Regions from separate parts of the Homo sapiens genome. Here regions 1 and 3 are each reported to be linked to region 2. Evidence: microRNA targets listed by miRTarBase, many of them from high-throughput screens and not tested one by one. Region 2 holds a microRNA gene; each other region holds the end of a gene's coding sequence.
Evidence for each region. Region 2 holds the annotated microRNA hsa-miR-548t-3p (AAAAACCACAAUUACUUUUGCACCA, at 3,183-3,207, opposite strand). A microRNA usually pairs through its seed, bases 2 to 8, with sites in the 3' UTR of a target mRNA and lowers its output. Matches are read on the target gene's strand: a 7mer-m8 pairs with bases 2 to 8, a 7mer-A1 pairs with bases 2 to 7 and ends in A, and an 8mer does both.

Region 1: the mRNA of GPR85 is a reported target of hsa-miR-548t-3p. Seed matches in the 3' UTR shown: 7mer-m8 at 1,889-1,895.
Region 3: the mRNA of RWDD2A is a reported target of hsa-miR-548t-3p. Seed matches in the 3' UTR shown: 8mer at 5,412-5,419 and 7mer-A1 at 4,708-4,714.

The regions. Positions count from the first base shown.
Region 1 is chr7:113,076,688-113,084,819 of GRCh38, reverse strand. GPR85 (G protein-coupled receptor 85) reads left to right here. Exons shown (of 3, transcript NM_001146267.2): 3 at 1-2,535. The coding sequence starts at 99. The coding sequence ends at 1,211. Among named protein-coding and RNA genes, the nearest start is that of GPR85, 6.1 kb to the left of the region's middle.
Region 2 is chr17:67,466,618-67,474,749 of GRCh38, reverse strand. It overlaps MIR548AA2 (microRNA 548aa-2), which reads right to left and starts at 3,261; the gene lies at 3,165-3,261. All of the region lies in intron 1 of PITPNC1 (phosphatidylinositol transfer protein cytoplasmic 1), which reads right to left. MIR548D2 (microRNA 548d-2) reads left to right here and starts at 3,165; the gene lies at 3,165-3,261.
Region 3 is chr6:83,195,020-83,203,151 of GRCh38, reverse strand. RWDD2A (RWD domain containing 2A) reads right to left here. Exons shown (of 3, transcript NM_033411.5): 3 at 4,217-7,557. The coding sequence ends at 6,880. Among named protein-coding and RNA genes, the nearest start is that of RWDD2A, 5.7 kb to the right of the region's middle.

The DNA.
Region 1 (8,132 bases), not on the chromosome of region 2:
TTATATTTTCAGTAAAATGTATGGATCTATCTTTTCCTTGTTCTTATATCTAGATCATGAGACTTGACTGAGGCTGTATCCTTATCCTCCATCCATCTATGGCGAACTATAGCCATGCAGCTGACAACATTTTGCAAAATCTCTCGCCTCTAACAGCCTTTCTGAAACTGACTTCCTTGGGTTTCATAATAGGAGTCAGCGTGGTGGGCAACCTCCTGATCTCCATTTTGCTAGTGAAAGATAAGACCTTGCATAGAGCACCTTACTACTTCCTGTTGGATCTTTGCTGTTCAGATATCCTCAGATCTGCAATTTGTTTCCCATTTGTGTTCAACTCTGTCAAAAATGGTTCTACCTGGACTTATGGGACTCTGACTTGCAAAGTGATTGCCTTTCTGGGGGTTTTGTCCTGTTTCCACACTGCTTTCATGCTCTTCTGCATCAGTGTCACCAGATATTTAGCTATCGCCCATCACCGCTTCTATACAAAGAGGCTGACCTTTTGGACGTGTCTGGCTGTGATCTGTATGGTGTGGACTCTGTCTGTGGCCATGGCATTTCCCCCGGTTTTAGACGTGGGCACTTACTCATTCATTAGGGAGGAAGATCAATGCACCTTCCAACACCGCTCCTTCAGGGCTAATGATTCCTTAGGATTTATGCTGCTTCTTGCTCTCATCCTCCTAGCCACACAGCTTGTCTACCTCAAGCTGATATTTTTCGTCCACGATCGAAGAAAAATGAAGCCAGTCCAGTTTGTAGCAGCAGTCAGCCAGAACTGGACTTTTCATGGTCCTGGAGCCAGTGGCCAGGCAGCTGCCAATTGGCTAGCAGGATTTGGAAGGGGTCCCACACCACCCACCTTGCTGGGCATCAGGCAAAATGCAAACACCACAGGCAGAAGAAGGCTATTGGTCTTAGACGAGTTCAAAATGGAGAAAAGAATCAGCAGAATGTTCTATATAATGACTTTTCTGTTTCTAACCTTGTGGGGCCCCTACCTGGTGGCCTGTTATTGGAGAGTTTTTGCAAGAGGGCCTGTAGTACCAGGGGGATTTCTAACAGCTGCTGTCTGGATGAGTTTTGCCCAAGCAGGAATCAATCCTTTTGTCTGCATTTTCTCAAACAGGGAGCTGAGGCGCTGTTTCAGCACAACCCTTCTTTACTGCAGAAAATCCAGGTTACCAAGGGAACCTTACTGTGTTATATGAGGGAGCATCTGTAAATCTTTAGCCTTGTGAAAACTAACCTTCTCTGCTGAGCAATTGTGGCCCATAGCCATATTTTGAGAAGAAATTCAAGAATGGAATCAGCAGTTTTAAGGATTTGGGCAACATTCTGCAGTCTTTGCAATAGTTCACCTATAATCCTATTTTAAATCTCAGAGTGATCCTGCTGACTGCCAGCAAAGGTTTGTAATTAAGAAGGGACTGAACCACTGCCCTAAGTTTCTTTATGTGGTCAAAAACTAGATAATGAAAGTAGCAGGTGCTAAGTATCAGTGCTAAATGCTCTGTATGTCACTACATATGAAAAAACATCAAAAAACAATTAGCATTGGACATCTTAATAAATTAAGTTGACATGAGGTAAATGTGTTGATAAAAACTAATTTTAGAAGTTTGAAGACTTTAAAACATTTCATACTACTATTGTTTTGCAAAGACTAAAATATTTGGGGACTTAAAGTACTGTAATCCACTAAAGACGTGCCAATGAATTATTGGAATATCACACTTTAAAAACCGCCTTGTAAGTTCTGGGGAGCATTCCAAAGCAGTATATTGGTTCCAATTAGAGTTTACTTTTTTTGTATTAATACATTGCTATTTCTAAATACCACTTTCCTCATCTACTAGTAAGATTGCTAGCATTGAACTGTATTATGTGGTTTTTGTTGATTTGGTATAAAGTTTTTCCAATTCATTTATATTTTACAAATGCTAGATATTGGTCTGGGAGGCAACATTAATGGTACCAGCCTGTCACAACTGAGCAGTTCTAATAATGCAGAATAAATACATGTTGCCTTAAAGGGTTATCTAGTATCCTTCATCTTATTTAGCACTGGAGCAAATAGCCAAGGGAAATCAAATCAGTAACTGGTCATGGTCATGCATCTAAAAGTGCATGGAAGATCATTTATTACTTTTTCCTTTTTTCTCACATGGTTTGAAACTTAAAGTGCACATCACTGAAATAATGAGATTTTCTTCTACGGTGTGCTACCCTTTCTAAACTGTTCTAAGAAGCAGGCAGTTGATGTATGTTTATATTTTAAGTCAGCTGTCAAGGGGAGACCACAGCCTTAGTATGACATCCTGCACAATTTGTGAAGCATTTATTCTACTGAAGGCACAGTCTTGTTTATACTTTCTGCACATTCAGTGTATTGGTAATTTAAATTATTTCAGTTTTAACTTGTGAAAGCTTATATTATGATTTCTGGTATTTTAGAAATACATTAGAGTCTGTGAGTCTCATTCTTTAAGATACAGATGTGTGAACTTCAATATAAAGTTGCATTTGCCAAAATTTACCCGTGTAGCCTGTTAATTTTCTTGAAATAAGTTTTACATTTTTGGCACATAACAACTTTTTTTTTAATTTGGGAGGCAAGCACAAACTAGGAAGACTAGCTTTATTATGGTTTTGCTTTTTGATTCTTGTAGCTACTACATTCCAGACTGGAAATGTATGAATGATAATCAACATAATGCTGATAAACTGACATAATATTATCTGTAAAAGCATTATTTGGTAGTTTATTATAATCATCCCTCTATTATTCTTAAATGCCAGTAGTATTTAGAGATGTGTACCTGCTTAGTTAATTGGCTCAGAATTTTAATATAAACATCACACTTTAATTTGGAGCATAGTACCATAGAAATTTGGGGTTCTAAATATACAACTTGTAAGAAGAATGGTTTACACTAACATTATGACAAAACTAGAAAAAGTTATTATTTTTGTTTGCTTTCTGTTGTTTTGTTTATTGGTTGGTTTTTGTGAAGTTTATTTTTTTTTGGTATTTGATAATTAAGATTAGGAATCTAATAACACAGAATTCCATATTGCTATAGTACTTCTGTAAAGAGAATATCAATATAAATAAGGAAAATAAATCAATGAAATGTTTCAATGATATATGCAACTATTCAGTTTTGCTCTTATAAGGACAGCTCAAGCCATGAATTAGTGAGCATTCTGACCTCATTTTTACTTTACACCAAAGTTGATTAGATCTGAGACAAAATTTAATGCACAACAGTGAGTTGGATCTAGCAATAAAGTCTCCTTGGTACTGAAATCATTATCTAAAATAAAGGAAATGTTATCAAAAGATGTTCTGATAACATTGTGATTGTAACTCAAAAAAATTTATAGTAGAAACGTAATTGCAATGATGATAATAACTAACTCTGCTTAGAGGTTCAAATATCACCAGCAATCAGTAAAAAATTCAGCAATAATCTTAAGGCCAGAGAGAACAGGTTCACCATTGCATAGACAAGAAAACAGATATGGGTTAAGAGTTGGGGACTGAGGAGTCAAGAGCAACGGCCACGTGAAGCTGCCTGACTCCACCTAGCTATTTGGAATAACCGATTCCCACAGTTTTGGTAAGAAACCAGCCCCAGTAATCAGTAAGTCAGGCTGAACTGCAGTGACTTTTATTTAAGCCTACTCCTGACTAACTTGGCATTTGCAGGTCAAGCAGGAAGCAGTTGACAAGACACATCCTCAGTGAATCAATGCCATTTGTAACTCAACTGGTAACAGTAGTAATCATACAAAATAAAAACCTGCTTCAGTGTCTTAATGACCAAATCACATTATCTATTTTAGCACTCATTCCAAAATTCAGTATTTAATGTAATTAATCTTTAATCCATAAAAATACATCCCCACTGTAGCGGGGCAGGGGGTGTCCAACTTCCCTGTGAGACTGATTATCAATAATAATGTGTCTCCCTCTTGGACTGAGCACACATCTGAGCTGAACGGCCTTTAAATTGTTTTTCATAATAGTGGTGATATGTTTGCGTGGATACGTCTGTACTATTTCATCTGGTTCATTTTGCATGTAATAGATTTATCTGTGAGATGCCTGGCTGAAGCTAGGCATTCAGTCTGTGACTGTGGAATCCTATGCAGGTATTAACCAAGGCAGAAAGAGGTGAGTAACTTGCCCATTTCTCCACAGAGACCCCATTTAAATAACACAAAATTGACCACAGTGATTAGATGAAAAAATTATTTGTAGATAGGATAATCTATTGACTGAATTATCTTTTGCAGATATCAGCTGGTTGGATTTCTCACCAGGATTGTCTATAGAAGTTAACTGATTTATGATTGTTAACACATAAATATGGCCACTTATCCATTTGCCTCAACTTCCATGGATGCTACCTGAATTGTTTGTTCATTTATTTACTTTTTCAACAAATATGTGCTGGGTGCTGGGCTTGGTGCTGAGTGCATAGTGGAAAACAAAGCAGAACAGTCTCTCATTTAGATTTCTTAATCTAGTGGGAAAGAAACAATAAATACATAGTAGCAATGAGTTGTGAGTGTTAATATGGTAAAAATTCCCTAAGAAGAACTTGGTCATAATGGCCATAAATGGACTGTTCTCCATTTTCACTTCAGTGCCTTATCACCTATCTTTGCCCAGTGTTATTTGGGATCTCGTATATATTATACATACTCCCTCAACTGAGAGGGAACCCCCTCATTCTATTCAAAGCACCAGGAACCTTTCACCCACACTTACACGAATCAGCGTGTTGTATTTTAGAACCAGCTCCCATGTAGTTAATTCTATCTACATAATAACAGCAAAATCTATTTTCCCTTCCAAAGTTCCCTTCATATCCCAACTATCCACTTCCAAAACAGAGATATTTCAATTGCTTTAAGAGACATGGAGGTGTCTTTTCTGACATACTCACATGTTCCTGCAAGATAGGATGAAAATGCGTGGGTAAAATGCAATCAAAGGAATGACTTATTTGTGTGCATCTTACGATGACTTGCGGGGGCCCTCCCAAGTAACTTGTGAAACAGGGTGCATATCTTTTATTATTAAAGCATGCCACCCCGTCAATGTTTTTTTTTTGCTCCTTAATTGGAATACAATAAAACTCCCTAATCGCCTATCAGCTGAAAACTTGGTTTGGCCTCCAAAATTTACTTCTATTGTAAGTACAATGAAACTGATTTATAACCATACAGATTACATTTTTCAGCTAAACTGTGTCATAATGAGTTGGGTTGCACCTGGGATTACTGTAGGACAGTTGCAAACAGAGCCAAAACTCTTCACTTCTGTGTATTCACTATTGGATAAATTTACTGGGTTTCATTATTTCATGCCATATGTAGCATAGACTGTATTATTATTATTAAAACAAAAGCAGTTTGCATTAATTTCATATTAAAAAGAAAAGAAAGAAGCTAAGATGATAAATGGTGATGTTTCAAATACTGGCTAAAGACATTAATCAAGGTAGATGGTAACCAGAATTGTGGGTTATTTATGGTTCTAAAACCTTGTGAGTTTATTTTTCTATGCAAAAATATATCATTTTCATGTTTGTTAATATTCTCTTATAAATGTTTTAAATGGAAATTGCAGGATATACTAAGAACTGTTTACTGCTGAAATTTTTTGTTGTTATTGTCAACTGTGGGCATGTCAGCATCTGTGAGTTTTCTAATTCCCTCAGAAACTTTTTTTACACCACATTAAAATGGTAGAATTGCTCAGTTTTGATGCAAAAATTCATAATTAGTCTGTATAGTGGTTAAAATGAAAATAACATTTGCAAATGACTGGAATTTCTTTTTTGGCCATCAGTCAAAACAGTCAAATAAGTTAAAGGCATATTTGAATTGGAGCAACGTAGAGAGAAGTTTTTGTTGTTGTTGTTGTTGTTTTGATAACTGTTTTTGCCTTATGCTGCAATGTAACAGGCTCTAAATAATATATTAAAACCAAAAAAGCTTTAACTGTATGAAAAGATTATATAAACAAGTCCTGGTTTTTAAAATGGGGCAGGAGTTTTACATCATCCCTTTTTGCCAAAGGGATGATGTCCATTAGCTGCTCAATCCCTTTGGGTTAAAAGGCTTTTAAAGCCAGTTTTCCTCTCACCATAACAGGCAGTTATTACAAGGACTGGCTCCCTGAAAGGTCCCCAGAGGAAATCAAGGAGACTGTGTTTCCCTCTGAGTAATTGAAAAAAAAAAAAAAAAAAAGGCCTCAAAGCCACAGGTGGTTTGGGGTTTTGAATTATTCACACCTGACATTCATAGCTGCCTCCTTGGCTCCTTCTGGGGACGTAGGACAACATCGTGCTCAGAAAGACCTAGGTTCCAAGTTCAGCTTGGAGGCAGAAAGCAATTCCTTTTTCTTCTCTCTGTGTTTGGAAAATAATAGATTATTGACACAAATATTAAAACTGATACTGTAATGCATTTCCTGGTTTGTGTGGTTTTGACAGACAATAAAGTAACATTTAACTTATAAGGGTATTCAAGATTATGGGATAAGGAAACAAGTCATTCATTATCCCACAATATAAGGAAGATGACTATAATCCTACAATATAAGGAAAAGTGATTATAATTTTTAAAGCTGAATTGACACTTGAGCTTGAACTAGCTAAAGTTAATTGTTCCTTTTCATAGCTTTCAGGGGGAAAAATCTGACTAAATAGATGAAAAAAGAGTTTGTTCTTTTTCATCCAAAAATTTAAAAGTTAAAAGATCATTTTCTTCTGTGAAAAAGGGAATTTTTGAACATTTTTCTTAAGCATTTTTACTTAGACACAATTCAGTACAACAATCATTTATTGCGCATCTACTGCATGTGTGATTTTGGGCAAGTTATTTAACCTTTCTATTCCTCATCAGTAAAAAGTGGACTGCAATGGTACATATGTCCTAGGGTTTTTGAGAAGATTCAGGGAGTGTGCATCCTTGTGAAGCCCTTAGCAGAGTCTGACATCTTAAATAAATTTCATTTTTTACTGCGTATGAGGGGCTGGCCCTCTCATAGTTCACCATCTAGCAGCAGAGACATCAACAAATTATGAGATGATGTGATAAGTGCTGTAAAGAAGATATGTGAGATAAGTGTTAAAGGAACACAAACAAGCAATTAATTCTGTGAAAGTGGGAGCAGGAAGGTGAGATAGAAAAGGTGACACTTGAACTCAGTCTTGAAGGATAATTTTAATTTAATCTGCTTGACAAAGTTGAGAAAGTCATTTCAGATAGAGGGAATAACAAGGTGAGCAAAAGGCAATGAGATTTGAAAGCTCATAATGTGTTCAACATAGGGATTCACTAATCAGAGAAGTTTATGTGGTGTGGCTGGGATTTAGGTACTGAACTGGGAAGGCCAGCATGGTGTAGAAGTTAAAAAGCGGGACATTTGGAGGTTTAAGTCCTTATTCTGGCCCTTACCAGCTCTATGGTCTTAAGCAAATCAGTTAAACTCTTTGAGTCTCAATTTGCTTATCTGTAAATTGAGGAATAAGTAGTAGCAACATTTTAAGATTTGCTTCGAAGATTAAATGAGATAAAAATATAACTATTATTTATTAAGTACTTACTATGTATCAAGCTCTGTTCTAAACACTTTTCATATATCAACTCAGTTGATTATCACAGTAATTAGATGCTATTATTATCTATACTTCGCAAATGAAGAAACTAAAGCACAGAGAAGTTAAGTAACTTGCGCAGGTTGGCAAAGAATAGCTGTAAATCACTTAGTACAGTAACCAGCACATTGTGAACTTCAGTAAATTCTGGCTATTGTTATTGTTATTACTGCTGCTACTGCTGGTTTTGTTTTGTTTTTTGTTTTGTTTTCTTTTGTTCTTTTTAAATAGCTGGCCAAGGTTAGAGACTAATGGGAGCGGAAGTGACTGAGCAGAAACAAAGCTCCCAGCCTTCAGAATTCACCCCCACCTTGCTGCTCTCTCTCTCCTTTCCCAAGGAGAATCTGAAGGAAGCAAAGAATAGTAGTTCTAATATCCCTCTCTGCCTTCATATAGGATTGTATTACTGCAGAAACAGGAGAATCTATTTGATTTTTCAAATAACTTTTC
Region 2 (8,132 bases):
CCGGGAGGTCAAGGCTGCAATGAGCTATGGATCATGCCACTGCACTCCAGCCTTGGCAACAGAGGGAGACAAAAAAATAAAAATAAAGAGAAGAAGAATCCTACGGATTGCCAGAATTGTGTGTGTTAATTTTAGATCTGTGGTTCTCAGCATGGGGCGATTTTGCTCCCCAGGGCACATTTGACACTGCCTGGAGACATTTTGGTGGTCACTGCTGGGGAAACAGGAGAGGGCACTAAAGCATCTAGAGGGTAGAGGCCAGGGATGCTGCGACACAGCCTGCAATGCACAAGACGGCTCCCACAACAATGAATTATCTGCTCCAAATGTCGGCAGGGCTGAGGTTGAGAAACGTTACTCTAGAGGCCAGGAATTTTGGCCAAGACAATTAAAATTCCAAAAGTCAACTTCCCATTGTCGTCACAGAAAACATCTTGACGGAGAAGACAAAAGCTAATTAGTTGGAACTCCTTCAAGTTCTCCTTCCTGACATGGAAATCGACCCTCCCAAACTTTCCTCTTACCCATTTGTGGGAACAGGGTGTCCCTTGTTTTTGCCAAGACCCCCACCTCCGGATCTCCTTCTCACTGACCTTCCTAGGAACTTCGCTCCATCCACCGCCCATTCCTCCCCCAGCATCTATGCTCCTCCTCCCCACACCTCCTGCTACCTGGCTCACAGTTAGGTTAACTTAAAGTAGTCCATTTTCCCATCTTAAAAACATCTCTCACCCAGAGAATAAAATAAGTACTTGTGAGTCCACACTGATATAAATAAATGAGAGGATAGATAAACAAATACCTGGAGAAGAAACAAATTTCCCTTACAGAAGAATTCCATGTAATAAAGGCAGAAGGCATGGGAGAATAGAAAATCACCAGGAGAACATTACAGTAATAATAGCTGCAGGCAGGGTCCACTGAGGAATGTTAAGTTCATGGGCAAACTTTAAGGGGAAACAGGATACCTGCATAGGCTCAACACATCCCTCCAAAAACATTTATTAGCCAGGTGAGGTGGCATGCACCTGTAATGCCTGCTACTCTGAAGGCTGAGGCATGAGCATCACTTGAGCTCAGGAGTTCAAGGCCAGCCTGGGAAACATAACAAGACCCCATCTCCAAAAAATATTAAAAAGCACACCAGGGCCGGGGGCGGTGGCTCACACCTGTAATCCCAGCACTTTGGGAGGCTGAGGCGTGCAGATCACGAGGTCGGTGAAACCCCGTCTCTACTAAAAAAATACAAAAAAATTAGCCGGATGTAGTGGCGGGCGCCTGTAGTCCCAGCTACTCGGGAGGCTGAGGCAGGAGAATGGCGTGAACCCAGGAGGTGGAGCTTGCAGTGAGCCGAGATTGTGCCACTGAACTCCAGCCTGGGCGACAGAGCGAGACTCTGTCTCAAAAAAACAAGCAGGCCAGGTAAAGTGGCTCACGCCTATAATCCCAGCACTTAGGAGGCCGAGGTGGGTAGACAGCTTGAGCCCAGGAGTTCAAGACCAGCATGGGCAACATAGTGAGACTCTATCTCTAAAAATAAGAATAACTTTTAAAATAATAAAAATACATTAATTGGCCGGGCACGGTGGCTCACACCTGTATTCCCAGCATTTTGGGAGGCCAAGGCGGGTGGATCACGAGGTCAGGAGATCGCGACCATCCTGGCTAACATGGTGAAACCCCTTCTCTACTAAAAATACAAAAAAATTAGTTGGGCATGGTGGTGCGCACCTGTAGTCCCAGCTACTCAGGAGGCTGAGGCAGGAGAATGGCATGAACCTGAGAGGCAGAGCTTGCAGTGAGCCGAGATCAGGCCACTGCACTCCAGCCTGGGCTACAGAGCAAGACTCCGTCAAAAAAAAAAAAATACCACATTAATTATGGTGCTGGTTTTAGCATATGTCCACAAATTCTTTGAAACCCCTCCCTGTAGGAGGCAGGGCCTAATCTCCCTCCCCTGAGTGACTCACTTCTAATGAATAGACGGTAAGCTTGTCCAACCCGTGGCCCAGGACAGCTTTGAATGTGGCCCAACACAAATTCATAAACTTTCTTAAAACATTATGATATTTATGCACAGACCTTTTTTTTTTTTTTTCTTTTGAGACAGAGTTTCCCTCTGTCACCCAGGCTGGAGTGCAGTGGTGCAATCTCGGCTTACTGCAAACTCCTCCTCCTGGATTCACACCATTCTCCTGCCTCAGCCTCCTGAGTAGCTGGGACTACAGGCGCCCACCACCACGCCCGGCTAATTTTTTCTATTTTTAGTAGAGATGGGGTTTCACTGTGTTAGCCAGGATGGTCTCGATCTCCTGACCTCGTGACCCACCCGCCTCGGCCTCCCAAAGTGTTGGGATTACAGGTGTGAGCCACCGCACCCGGTCCTTTTTTTTTTTTTTTTTTTTTTTTTTTTTTTTAGCTCAACAGCTGTCATAGTGTTAATGATGTATTTTATGTGTTGCCCAAGACAATTCTTCTTCCAATGTGTCCCAGGGCAGCCAAAAGATTGGACACCCCTGGAACAGAGTATGGAAAGGGAAATTAGCAGCTTACGGTGGGTAACTCTGGTAGACAACGCCTTAACCAAGTGATCAAGGTTAACTTCACCAGTGAGCAATCAGGTAGATATCATGTGCCCCCTAATATTATGTGATGAGAAGGCCATTTCACCTCTGGGGTATTCTTTCCCCAAACCCCAACTGCAGTCTAATGATCAGAAAACATCAGACAAATCCAGATTGAGGGACATCCTACAAAATACTTGACCAGCCCACTTCATAAATGTCAAAGTCATAAAAAAACAAGGAGAGACAGAGAAATTGACATAGATTGAAAGTGACTATTATGATATAATAATTAAGTGCAACATTATATCCTGATTAAATCCTGGAACAGAAAAAGGACATTAGTGGAAAAAACTGGTGAAATCTGAAGAAAGTCGGGAGTTTAGTTAATACAACTGTGCCCATGTTAATTTTTGAGTTTTGATAAATGTATCATAATTAGTACGATATTAACATTGGGGGAAGGTGGATGAAGACTACGGGGGGTTCTCTGGATTTGCAACTCTTCTGTAAATCTAAAGTTAACTTTAGGGGGTATATGATGTCAACCTGATTTAGCTAAAGTTAACTTTAGATTTACAGAATAATTGCAAATCCAGAGAGAGGGAAGATTTAGGTTGGTGCAAAAGTAATTGTGGTTTTTGCCATTGAAAGTAATGGCAAAAACCACAGTTTCTTTTGCACCAACCTAATAAAATAAAAAGTTTAAAAGGAAAAAAATCTCTCAAATGAAGACGTAGGTCCACACAAGGACTTGTATGTGAATGTTCATTGCAACTTTACTCAAAATCATCCAAAACTGGAAGTAACCCAAATGTCCATCAACTGGTAAATGAATAAACAGACTGTGGTATATCCATTCAGGGGAATGCTACTATGCAATAAAAAGGAACAAACTATTGATACATCCAATAATATGGATGAATTTCTTTTTTTTTTTTTTTTACATTTTTTTTTTTTACATTTTTTTTTTAATTTATTTTTTTATTGATAATTCTTGGGTGTTTCTCACAGAGGGGGATTTGGCAGGGTCATGGGACAATAGTGGAGGGAAGGTCAGCAGATAAACAAGTGAACAAAGGTCTCTGGTTTTCCTAGGCAGAGGACCCTGCGGCCTTCCGCAGTGTTTGTGTCCCTGATTACTTGAGATTAGGGATTGGTGATGACTCTTAACGAGCATGCTGCCTTCAAGCATCTGTTTAACAAAGCACATCTTGCACCGCCCTTAATCCATTTAACCCTGAGTGGACACAGCACATGTTTCAGAGAGCACAGGGTTGGGGGTAAGGTCACAGATCAACAGGATCCCAAGGCAGAGGAATTTTTCTTAGTGCAGAACAAAATGAAAAGTCTCCCATGTCTACTTCTTTCTACACAGACACGGCAACCATCCGATTTCTCAATCTTTTCCCCACCTTTCCCGCCTTTCTATTCCACAAAGCCGCCATTGTCATCCTGGCCTGTTCTCAATGAGCTGTTGGGTACACCTCCCAGACGGGGTGGTGGCCGGGCAGAGGGGCTCCTCACTTCCCAGTAGGGGCGGCCGGGCAGAGGTGCCCCTCACCTCCCGGACGGGGCGGCTGGCCGGGCAGGGGGGCTGACCCCCCCCACCTCCCTCCCGGACGGGGAATATGGATGAATTTCAAAAACATTGTGTTGAGCAAAAGAAGTGAGACACAAGAGACTACATCTGTATGACTGCATCTATAGGAAACTTTAAGAAAGGCAAGACTTTAGTGCAAAAGCAGATCAGTGCTTGTTAGGAACAGGAGTGGGGAATGTGGGGGGTAGAGAGAAGTAATTGACAGCTAAAAGTCACAAGGGAAGTTCTAGGGGTGATGAAATGTTCTGTATCTTGATGGGGCAGTGGTTACATGACTACAGTGTGTGTATATATATGTTAAAACTCATCAAGCTGTACACTTAAAGTGAGTTCTATTCTATGTTAGCTATATCACAATATGGCCAGGTGTGGTGGCTCATGCCTGTAATCCCAGCATTTTGGGAGGCCAAAGTGGGCAGATCACTCGAGGTCAGGAGCTTGAAAACAGCCTGGCCGACATGGTGAAACCCCATCTCTACTAAAAATACATAAATTAGCCAAGTGTGGTGGTGTGTGCCTATAATCCTGGCTACTTGGGAGGCTGAGGCAGGAGAATCGCTTGAACCCAGGAGGCGGAGGTTACAGTGAGCTGAGATTGCACAACTGCACTCCAGCCTGGATGACAAAACAAGATTCTGTCTCAAAAAAAAATTATATATATACATATACACACACATATATATATTATATATCACAGTAAAGCTGATTTTTAAAAAATCTCTCAGCCCCTGCTATTGCTTTGTTTTTATCCTCCTGAGCCTCTCTATAGCTATGGCACTTGAATTTCCTTCTTCCTCTTGGTGGCTTTTGTTCTGTCTTATTTCCTGATGCCCTTTCTAGGTCCCTAAACATTAGTGCAAAGAGGGCACCAGAGCAGAGGGGAACAATTCTCTCTACACTCAAGTGGAATCTCTGAGCTGAGGGACCCAGAGAGGTGGAGTAGCCAGCAGGGCCCTGATGACCCGCACCTGAACTCCCACGGGTCTGACGGCTGCTGTCACAAGAGCCTGGGGCCGCTGGTCTGAGTGTGCTGGCGATCCAGCCAGGCTCAGGACGCTGAGGAGGAGGTAACCGAGACCAGGCTTCTCCCTTGTCAACAGGCAGACAGATCCCGGGGATCTTGTTAAAACACAGAGGCTGATTCAGCAAGCTGGGCGGGGGCTGCAGATTCTGCATTTCTAATAAGCTACGGAGTGATACGGTGCTGAGGGTTGGAGGCCCACACTCTGAGCTCAAAACGGAGACCACAGGGATATGCAATGTGTGCAGAGAAGGGGGAGGATGGCACAGGCTGCAGCAGTGGGGCGGGTGCTTGGCTACACTTGGAAAGGAAGTTCTCACAGTGTCTACAGCAGGAACCCAGACAGTTTCTGAGCCATCCTGGGGCTACTACAGGGACTGGGAAAATTGCACCAGTTGGGGAACAAAAAGTAAACAATGGTCTTATTACAATTAGTATGGTCTTTATTGCATGTAGGTGACAGGCCCTTAAAGAAGGTTTCATCCAGACATTCTCCCAGATCCCTCTCCATACTCTCTCAAGAAAGTCACCTGGGCCAGGCGCAGTGGCTGACTCCTGTAATTGCAACACTTTGGGAGGCCGAGGCAGGCGAATCACCTGAGGTCAGGAGTTTGAGACCAGCCTGGCCAACATGGCGAAACCTCGTCTCTACTAAAAATACAAAAATTAGCCAGGCGTGGTGGTGGGTGCCTGTGATCCCAGCTACTTGGGAGGCTGAGGCAGGAGAATCGCTTGAACCTGGGAGGTGGAGGCAGGAGAATCGCTTGAACCTGGGAGGCAGAGGTTGCAGTGAGCCGAGATAGTGCCACTGCACTCCAGCCTGGGCAACAGAACAAGACTCCGTCTCAAAAAAAAAAGCGGCCAGGCACGGTGGTTCACACCTGTAATCCCAGCACTTTGGGAGGCTGAGGTGGGCGGATCACGAGGTCAGGAGATCGAGACCCTCCTGGCTAACACGGTGAAACCCCGTCTCTACTAAAACTACAAAAAAATTTAGCTGGGCGTGGTGGTGGGCACCAGTAGTCCCAGCTACTCGGGAGGCTGAGGCAGGAGAATGGCCAGAACCTGGGAGGCAGAGCTTGCAGTGAGCCGAGATCATGCCACTGCACTCCAGCCTGGGCGGCAGAGTGAGACTCCATCTCAAAAAAAAAAAAAAAAAAAGGAAAGAAAGCCACCTGTTCATTCCTGTGGCTTCACCACGGCTTCCCCAAGGGACTCCCAAATCTGTCCCTGATGCTGCTCCTGCACGCCCCCAGTGTTGCTAACAGCTGGTAGCTATCTCCAGCTCCTTAATTGAGCCTGAAACTCACCATGTCTCAAACATGCCTGCTTCCTCCTGTACTATCTTCATCAGCTGGTGGTTGTACTAGACACTTCTACGACTCTAAATAACCCTTCCATAGCATTGCCTGACAACCAAGACCAAGAGATAGTCACCCCTTGTCACACTCTCTAGTTTCTTTTATAATGGTTATCTCAGCTGCAATTAATTAGGGACAGGATTATTTGTGAATATCCATCTCTCTCACAGGACAATAAAAGGGCAGAGGCCCTCTCTGCTCTGTGGTCTGCTTCCCACTCTGCCCCAGCACCAAGCCGAGAGGCTGGCATGAAATACAAGACATGCAATTACATCGTAAGTCTCCAACTCAATTCTGACACATTAGGAGTCTCTAAACACAAACATTAGGGACCATGTCAGTTTCTGAAATGCTCTTGTTTACTGACATTTAATCATTTTCCCAGGGACGGCTTTCTACAAGATCAGGCTGACCTCTTTGGGGGTTTTATTCTTAGATGATGAAGATATTTTGACACAAGGCCCAAAGGCAACATGCACCTGGTTGTGGCTGGCAGGTGGCTTTGCTTTTTAGATACAGAGCTTGGAGCTTGCCCTGAGTGACAGTAACTTGTAAAGCAAATCTGTTTGGGGCAGAGGCAAAGCAGATCTCATTAGACTCCTAAAGGGACATGTTAGTATAGCTAGAAAGCAATACCTGGTTCCAAAATTCAGAATTTTGCGAGAGCCACTCAATCACCAAGCAAGGCCACTTCAAAAGCCTATGACAACATCCATTAATACTCCAGTCACTCTGGATCAGAATAAAAATGAAAAAGGTGCAAATGAAACTTCTCTCACTGGTCCACACCACCCTCCCTGAACCTTGTATCTGAAAAGATATTTTAGTTCAGAAAAAAAAAGTCTCCAGCGGGGCACAGTGGCTCATGCCTGTAATCCCAACACATTGGGAGGCTGAGGCGGGTGGATCACCTGAGGTCAGGAGTTCGAGACCAGCCTGGCCAACATGGTGAAACCCCATCTCTACTAAAAACACACACACACAAAAAATAGCCAAGAATGGTGGTGCACACCTGTAATCCCAGCTACTTGGGAGGCTGAGGCAGGAGAATCACTTGAACCTGAGAGTGAGCCGAGATCATGTCACTGCACTCCAGCCTGGGTGACAGAGCAAGATTCATCTCAAAAAAAAAAAAAAAAAAAAAAATCTCCTAACTGGCTCAGGTCCCTTTTCAGCTAAATTGGGAAGAAAAGCAGGTGAAGGAAACAAATGGTCCTTAACACAAGAATGCCCAGTTATTATTTTGCAAAAACAGTCAAAGCCCTGTTAATAGCAGGAACATAGTCTTCTCTTAAGGAGCTAGATTGCTTGCTGGATTTGGGGGGGAAGAAAATTAATACTCACTACTGAGGTATTCCAACAGTTGGAATGAAGTAGTTGAAAGAGAGGATCAAGGCAATCATCATCTCCCAGCCCAACCTCCTGCCAAGCACCAGGGCCAAGCACTCCTCCTGCGACTCCCAGAGGGTCCTGTTCAAACCACAGGTGCAGAAGGTGCAGACATCTGACTCCTATTTCCTCTGTGTCCAAGAGTGGGGGTTTTTCAAGCAAAAGGGCTAACAACACTGAATTCGGAAGGCAAG
Region 3 (8,132 bases), not on the chromosome of region 2:
TTATAAATTACCTAGTCTCGGATATGTCTTTATTAGTAGCGTGAGAACGGACTAATACGGCAAGCTAGCACAAAAATCAATAGATAAAGAACAGAATGCTTGGTAAAAGGACTGGAAAAACTGGCCCACAACATGGAGAAAATTAAAACTAGAACCCTACCTTACACTATGTGAAAAGGTAGACTCCAGATCGATTAGAGACCTAGGTATGAATGGTAAAAATATAAAGTTAATGAAAATCAATGTAGCAAAATATGTTTGGGACCTCATAAACACAACTATGAGGTAAAATGGGATATATTATCTAAGGAAGGGAAGGTTTAGGTGGATCAGATGGCTGCTGCCATAATACAGTGTAAAGGACAAGGAATTCTAGGACTGTGAGTTGCGGTGGTTGCTTCTAGCAGAGATGGATACATAAAGAAAGATAATTTAGGCTTGAGTCTGAAATCCTCAGCTCAAAAATTTTAGACTGAATTCTCAATCTAAAAACCAGAAAAAGCCCCATGTTTTTGCTAACAACATATTTTCTCTCTTTCTAGTTATAATGCTGAAATAATTGAAAACCATGGTCATACTTAATCTTGCTGCTTGCCAAATTATATTAATACCCTGAGTTAAACTGACATCCTCATTAGGCCTCTTATGTCAAACTTAGAGTATTGACCAAGAAACAGTAGGACCTTGATTTGGAATGGGGAAGGGGATTTGGAGGACTCATAATATCCTAAACTAGGGAGAACAATAGTCCAGGTTTCAGAAGTGAAAGTCCTGTGTCCCAGGAAACCCCTCAGTCCCAGGAAAACTGGGATAGTTGACATGTTCTCCTTTGCTAATCAAAGCAGGATCTCTTCCCGTCTAAAGAAGTTGTTACTGCCTTGCTAGAAGATCCTGTAATGACCTCACCTGAGGTAATAATTACCTTGTAAAGAGAAACCAATTGTAAAGGGAGGCCTACGCTCCTCCTCCATTATTCACATTATTTCCGTACACCCCAAATCAGATTCCAGCATGAGAAGGGCTGTGGTGGCTAGTAATTTAAAAGGCAAATCCAGAAGGAGGAGACTTACGCCAAAAAAATTCTAGACTCTGCTCACATATATTGGCAAAAGCCCAGAGAAAAATGTGTGGGATTCTCAGAACGTTACACTCACAAGGAGAACTGTAATTTTGGATAAGGCAGAAATGATGATAGGGTACACTTGCCACAGATTCTGGATTCTGTGCGCTGCCTTGAGCAGCTGGGGGTGATTCTACTTGTTGGTTCAGTTAGTTGAGTGAAACATGAACTTAATAAGGGTCCACATTAAATGAAATTGAGAATGCAAACATTCCTTAAATAATATAAAGCCATTCAAATATTTACAAAGATAGGAATGTTGGAGTGGAATTGTTGTGTGCAATATGACTGTCCTAATCTATTGATCTCCTAAGTCTCCTTGGAGGACCTATCAGTGACCCTCCTTTCACTAAGGCCTTGAGAGAAATAACACTGGTGAGGGGAGTACCAACATCCATGAAAAGCATTTTAATGATACTTCTCTTTAAGCTAGGAAGGCTTGGGAAAATGTTATGGTTAAAAGGCTTTCCTGATTTCAATGGAGAAATCAGACTCTTGGGTTTGGTACAGGCTTAATAGCATTTAGTAGCAATTAACAACTGGAGACAAGGTGAAAACAGTGATTGTAATAGGAGGAGGTCCAGTGTAATCAAGAGTTCAGCCCACAGAAACCTTGGTTGTGGATAACACGGGGCCTCCTGGCCTGAAATGCTGTTCAAAAAATTAATGAGGCAGCATACATACTAACCAAGAAAAATTGATACCATTGTATAAAATTGATACAGCCATGCCAGTACATACCAGCTATATCCCAGCCTGGCCTAGGACCAAATACATTAGCAACAACATACGCCCCACTTGATATATATAACAATAGCAGAAAAGCCTGACTGGAGCCACCAAGATACAGTGTCACCAAATTGCCACAAACAGATATGAATGAAAGACCCCTAAAGATGCAGAACTCTGTAATTATATCATAAATGTTTCCAAAATCTTTTTTGAGGCTCCCATTTGCTAAGATAACAATGCACTGCAGAAAGGAAAAACTATTAGGCCTTTTGGAGGTCATCTGGGAACAGCTCTGAACAAATATAAATTTCTCGGGTCTCTGAAACCACTGTGGTCTATAGAACAAAGTATATGCTATAGGAATAAACCCATCCCCCACTTATTTTTCCAGTAAAGAGTTATAATTTATTTCTTCATCCTCTGTGGCAATATACCCACATTGGATCCCTGATCCATAAAAAGAGGGTTATTCTCTCAGGAAGTATGAAGAGATTTGCAGAGATGAGTCCCACCATCAAAAGCTTTGAAAGCAGCAGGAGTGTGATTCTTATCACATCTTGCTTTAGCATGATCTTTGGCATATGTAGGAGGAGACAGATGGGTCTCTAAGAATGACTTCACAGGCTGGGCTCAGTGGCTCACACCCGTAATCCCAGCACTTTGGGAGGCTGAGATGGGCAGATCACTTGAGGCCAGGATTCGAGACCAGCCTGGCCAACATGGCGAAAAACCATCTCTACTAAAAATACAAAAATTAGCCAGGCGTGGTGGCATACACCTGTAATCCCATCTACTTGGGAGGCTGAGGCATGAGAATCACTTGAATCCGGGAGGCAGAGTTTGCTTTGAGCTGAAATTGGGCCACTGCACTCCACCCTGAGTGACAGAGCGAGAGAGCAAGACTCCGTCTCAAAAAAATAGAATGGCTGCACATATTCCGAAACTTAAGCAGATGGTGATTCCAACTGCAGCTGCTGTCATATAAGTTCTTTTTTCTTGGAGCAAATCAGAAAGTAGCTGGCTACTGATTTGGTCAATGCTTTTTTGTTTTTCCTTTATTCCAGTAAGTAAAGACCACTTGAAGCATTTTCTTTATCTCAGTAAGCAGCAATGTAGATTGTCTTTTTCCAACATTACATTAACTTTCTATGTCAGAATATCAGTCTCGATATCAGACCTTTGATCAGCTTACCACTATACAGGGCAGCATGCTGTATGCCTCCAGGTGATATTCTGATTGGACTTGGAGAATGGAGTCATGTTTCCTGGATGCCTAGTAAGATGTGTCATCCCAGAGGGTGAACGATAAATCCCATGAAAGCACAGAGCCTGCAGCCAAGTTTTGTAGAAGTCCAGTGTCTGGTACATGCTGGGATTTCCCCTTCATTGTGAGGAACAAATTGTGTACTTTGTTCCTTCTATAACTAAGGAGAACTCCCAGGGTTTGGTGGGTGATATGGTTTGGCTGTGCCCCTATCCAGATCTCACCTTGAATAGTAATAATCCCCATGTGTCAAGGACAGGACCAGGTGGAGATAATTGAATCATGGGGGTGGTTTACCCCATACTTCTCGTGGTAGTGAATAAGTGTCACGAGATCTGGTGGCTTCATAAAGGGGAGTTCCCCTACACAAGATCTCTTGCCTGCCCCTATGTAACATATCCCTATGCTCTTCCTTCGTCTTCTGCTGTGATTGTGAGGCCTCCCTAGCCATGTGGAACTGTGAGTCCATTAAACCTCTTTCCTTTATAAACTACCCAGTCTCGGGTATGTCTTTATTAGCAGCATAAGAATGAGCTAATACAGTGGGCTTACTTAAATTCTGTGTACCCTGCTCAAATTCATTCGGGGGTTGACCCAAATGCATCTAGTTTTGACTGGGATCAGAAAGAGAGGTCTCTCTAGCTGGTCCAGGCTATGGTGAAATTAGTTCCACCATGTGGACCTTATGAGGGAAAGCCAATGGGCTCAGAGTTTCTGTGGCAAATCAGGATTATGTATAAAACCAGGAAGTGTGAGCAACACTGTGCCCTCTTCAGACAATAACTATTCTTTTGACTTACTACTGGGCTACTTGAGATAAAAGCAAGTGAAAAAAACCTGTTCAAAAGGGTTCCATGAAGGCTGCAGACAGACACCATCAGAACCTTCTCAGGTTCTGAGAGGGGATGGATGGCATGTAAGGAGTTATATGTGAACGCTCAAGTTCACAGGCAATGTATGTTTGATTTAATAAGGAATGTTTTAGAGGTCCCTGTGTTGTGGTCTGCCAACTCATCTGGCCTACTCAATTCACTATGCAGGTGTCCTCAGCTCTTAGCCTAACACATAATAGACCAGTAAGGAATGAAAAGCAAAGAACATACTTGACGATATGCTTCATTTACTTCAGCAAACTTTAAAAAGACACTGTAACTTTTATAAATGAGCACATTTTCCAAATAACCATTTAAGAATATAATAAACAGAATATCCAGATTCTTAAGTTACAAGCAATAGAGACTGATTCTGATTTCCGACAACAAAAGGGAAGATGCTGGGTCATTCAAAGGAAATGCCAAACAGCTGAGCATTCAGTAGGTCAGAAATGAGGGTGGCACTAGAGGTTTAAGCAGCAAGAGCTCACAGCCATCTCTCCAGGAGGCTGCCAGAGGACAACTTGATTCCTATCACTTTCTCTTCCCAAATCACACAGGGAAGGGGCAGTTTCCCAAAATAAGCTGTGTGTGTAGGGGGAGGGGGTTGGGGAATGACGGACTTTTATTATGTGCTCATATCAGGCTGTGCAAACAACCAGCAGACTCCTATACATACAAAGTTGAGTTTTGAATTATACATGTACTTTTTTTTTCTATAAAACCTACACGTCCCCATAATACTATCTGCATTAGTTTTCCTGATAGGAAAAAAAGTATTGCAGAATGCTCAAATTAGACTTATTTATAAAAAAGTAGGTTCTGAAAAATCTCAGAAATAGCTCCAGAAGCAGTAGAGTTCATAACCTAGAATTTATTGCCTTTTCTTTACACCCATCTTTCTGTAGCTACTTTTGCTCATGTAATCAGGAAAAACACCTCTATAAGGTAGGTTGATGGCACATATTGATTCATTTGGATGGAGTTACATCTGTTGAAGGCCTAAAACTTGTAAATGCGAATTATACTTATTGATAGCTTTGTGGAGACTGTGGGGGAAAAAGATTCCTATACTTTGTTGTTTTTAGTGCTGGCAAACATTAAGAAGTGATTCCTTGGCAATGTAAGTCCTATTTCTTCCCTTTGCATATAGGCAAAGTGTCAGGCTCCAGCCTGAGTTCCAGCACAACCAAGGCTAGGATGGAAACATGAATGGCAAGCTGGAGGACCTGGCGGGGCAGGCCTACAGCGAGCCATGGGTTGAAGATCTGAGTTGTGCCCTGAGAGGACACTCATTGTGACCTAAGAAGAAAGAGGCAGTACAAAGTGGACCCAGTTCTAACACCTCCTTGGGATAGGGCCTCCTGCTCCATCATGTCCTCTCTGTAGCCCAAGGACACGTCTGCATCCACGGCACAGAGGGTAAAACCAGATGGTAGTTTCATCAGAAGTTCTGTAGGCTCCCCAGCACAAGCAGCACTGTCTGACATCTAACAGGATGTGTTCCTAAATCCCAGCACCAAGCTTTGGCATCTTGAGAGGACCCAGTAGGAGAATGGAATGCCTCCCGGGAAAGGGCAGCAGTAGCTGACCACAGAAACACGGAAAGCTGCAGAGGCTGCTCAAGACATCTCTTAGCACATGAGACTCGCAGAAATACTTGGGGAGGGATGGAGACCTGGTAATGAAAAGGCTTGGCAAGAGCTACTTAAATAGCGGTTTTTAATCATTAAAATAAACTCTCATTTTGAAAAGCCTGGTGAAGCCTGTGGAGCTTGGAATTTTCAGAGGAGATGGCAGTAACATCATCGGACTGTAGAATTAGATTTTTTTTTTCCCAATAAGGTAATGATGCAGATATCCACACTGGTCCCCTCAACAGTCTCTTGCCCTTTATAGTAATGCATACTGGCACACAGGCAAAGGTTGGATTGAAACAGGCGAATACTTTGTAGACAAGGAACCATGTGTTTATCTTTTCTGGATAAGAATTAAACTAATACTGGTATCAGGATTGCTAGTATCATGAACTGATATAAACAGCCAGAACACATAGCATTGTGTGTCATCTTTTAACTCGTGGGACTTCATGTCTATGAGTCCTTTGCCACTGCTATTAGGATCTAGTTTTACTAAAACACTCGAAATAGGAGTTTAAAGTAAGAAATGAAGTAAACGGGCTGGGCGCGGTGGCTCACACCTGTAATCCCAGCACTTTGGAAGGCCGAGGCAGGCAGATCACGAGGTTAAGAGATTGAGACCATCCTAGCCAACATGATGAAACCCTGTCTCTACTAAAAATATAACAATTAGCTGGGCGTGGTGGCGCACGCCTGTAGTCCCAGCTACTTGGGAGGCTGAGGCAGGAGAATCGCTTGAACCTGGGAAGCTGAGGATGCAGTGAGCCGAGATCGCACCGTCTCAAAAAAGGAAGTAAACATGTCCTTCCTGTTCTCATTTTAAACTTGATTTAGATTTCCAATAATGAAAGACAAGTGGGTGTGTCACATGTGTGCTAGCAATGTGAAACAAATGCTATTCATATTTCTCAATTCATAATTGCAGTTTGATTTTTGATGTTAGTTATGGGCTTTGGATTCCTCTTCAATCAAATCAGCTTCACAAGTTAAATGGATTGTTTTTATTAATTTACAATGAAATAGTTTTTGAATGACTTCACACAAAAACCTAGAGATAACATCACAATTGCAATGTTATAAAGTTTAAAGGCCTATTCATTTCACTGTCAGTTGAAATTCGTTACCAGGTGAAAATTCTGGAGCTGGGTTTTGCACTGAGGATGCTACACAGCCACTAGCCTTTTTAATTTGGTCTTATTAACAGAAATACTGACTTAGTGAAATTACAGGCATAGGCCTCTTAATCGCTTTTTATGAGTCTGAACTTTTGCTTTCAATACCAAATAGTATCTGAAAAACATGCTCACTTTTGTGCTTCTTGAGAAATTCTAAGAATTGGCCCAGATTCATGTGATAGTCATTCCTTAATCCATAGTCACCATGAGCCTCAAGGAGTAACTCTTCAAAAGAATGGAAAAGGCGCAGGTCCTCACCATTTCCTTCTGTCTCCACGCTTTCAGCATGCTTACAGGAAATGTGCTTCCAATTGGGGTACCTAATTGTGTGCCAGAACTCCTCACAGTGCTCTTTGAAACCCTCCACACAGATTATACCAGGCTTTCCTGTCATGCAAAATCCAGTCACATCTAACCTTTTCCCAACATCCAAAATCTTTTTCCTTAGGTCCTGCTGATATATATGGTGACTGTAGATCCACATTCGGAGGAATGTGTTCTTGACTGGCTTTGCTTGTGTAGATGGTTCATATACAAGCTTTCTGTTCAGGAAATAAGATGCACTGTTGTCCTGTAGCCACTGGATTGCTGCACATACACAGAGCTCACCTGGATCAAAAGTCCCTATGTAAGAAGTGAGACCTTTGTTGAGAAGTAGCTGCTGATGTCTGTCAAGTTCAGATGACCGTCCAAACAGCTGCAATGCTACATAGGGGTAGCTGTGAGGCATGGTCACTTGCAAATCAATTTTCACCTTAAAATGAAAATCAAATAGATTTAAATACCATAACATCACATAAGCTAGTTTATCAATAGCAACTGCATGATTTTGAGAAATGTTATTGCTACTATTAAATGTACCAGGTACTTTACATACATGATTGCTTCCTTTTATGCATTATTTCAATATTTATTGAACAACTACGTGTGCCAGGTGCCCTTGTGCTGGGATAAAAAAGTGAATAAACCAGACACTATTTTTGCCCTTCATGAAGTCCAGGGCCTAGTGAAGGAGACACACATTAAACAAATAATTACATATAGCAAGTATTTAATTTCAATTGTGAAAAGCATTACCATGGAAAAGTGGAGGGTTCCATTGAAGTGTGTAACCAGCGGGACAGAATCCAGTCTGGAGAACCAGAAAGTCTCCTCTGAGGGAATAACAACTGAAGGATGAGTAGGAAATAGCTACAACAGTGGTTCTCAAATGCCCAGTCCACGTATTACCTATGCTATGCTAATGTTGCTGGAGATAAATGGATCAGAAGATGGAGGTAAATTCATTTTTAGTCTTTAGATTTTTCCATCCATATTTGCTTTCTGTGT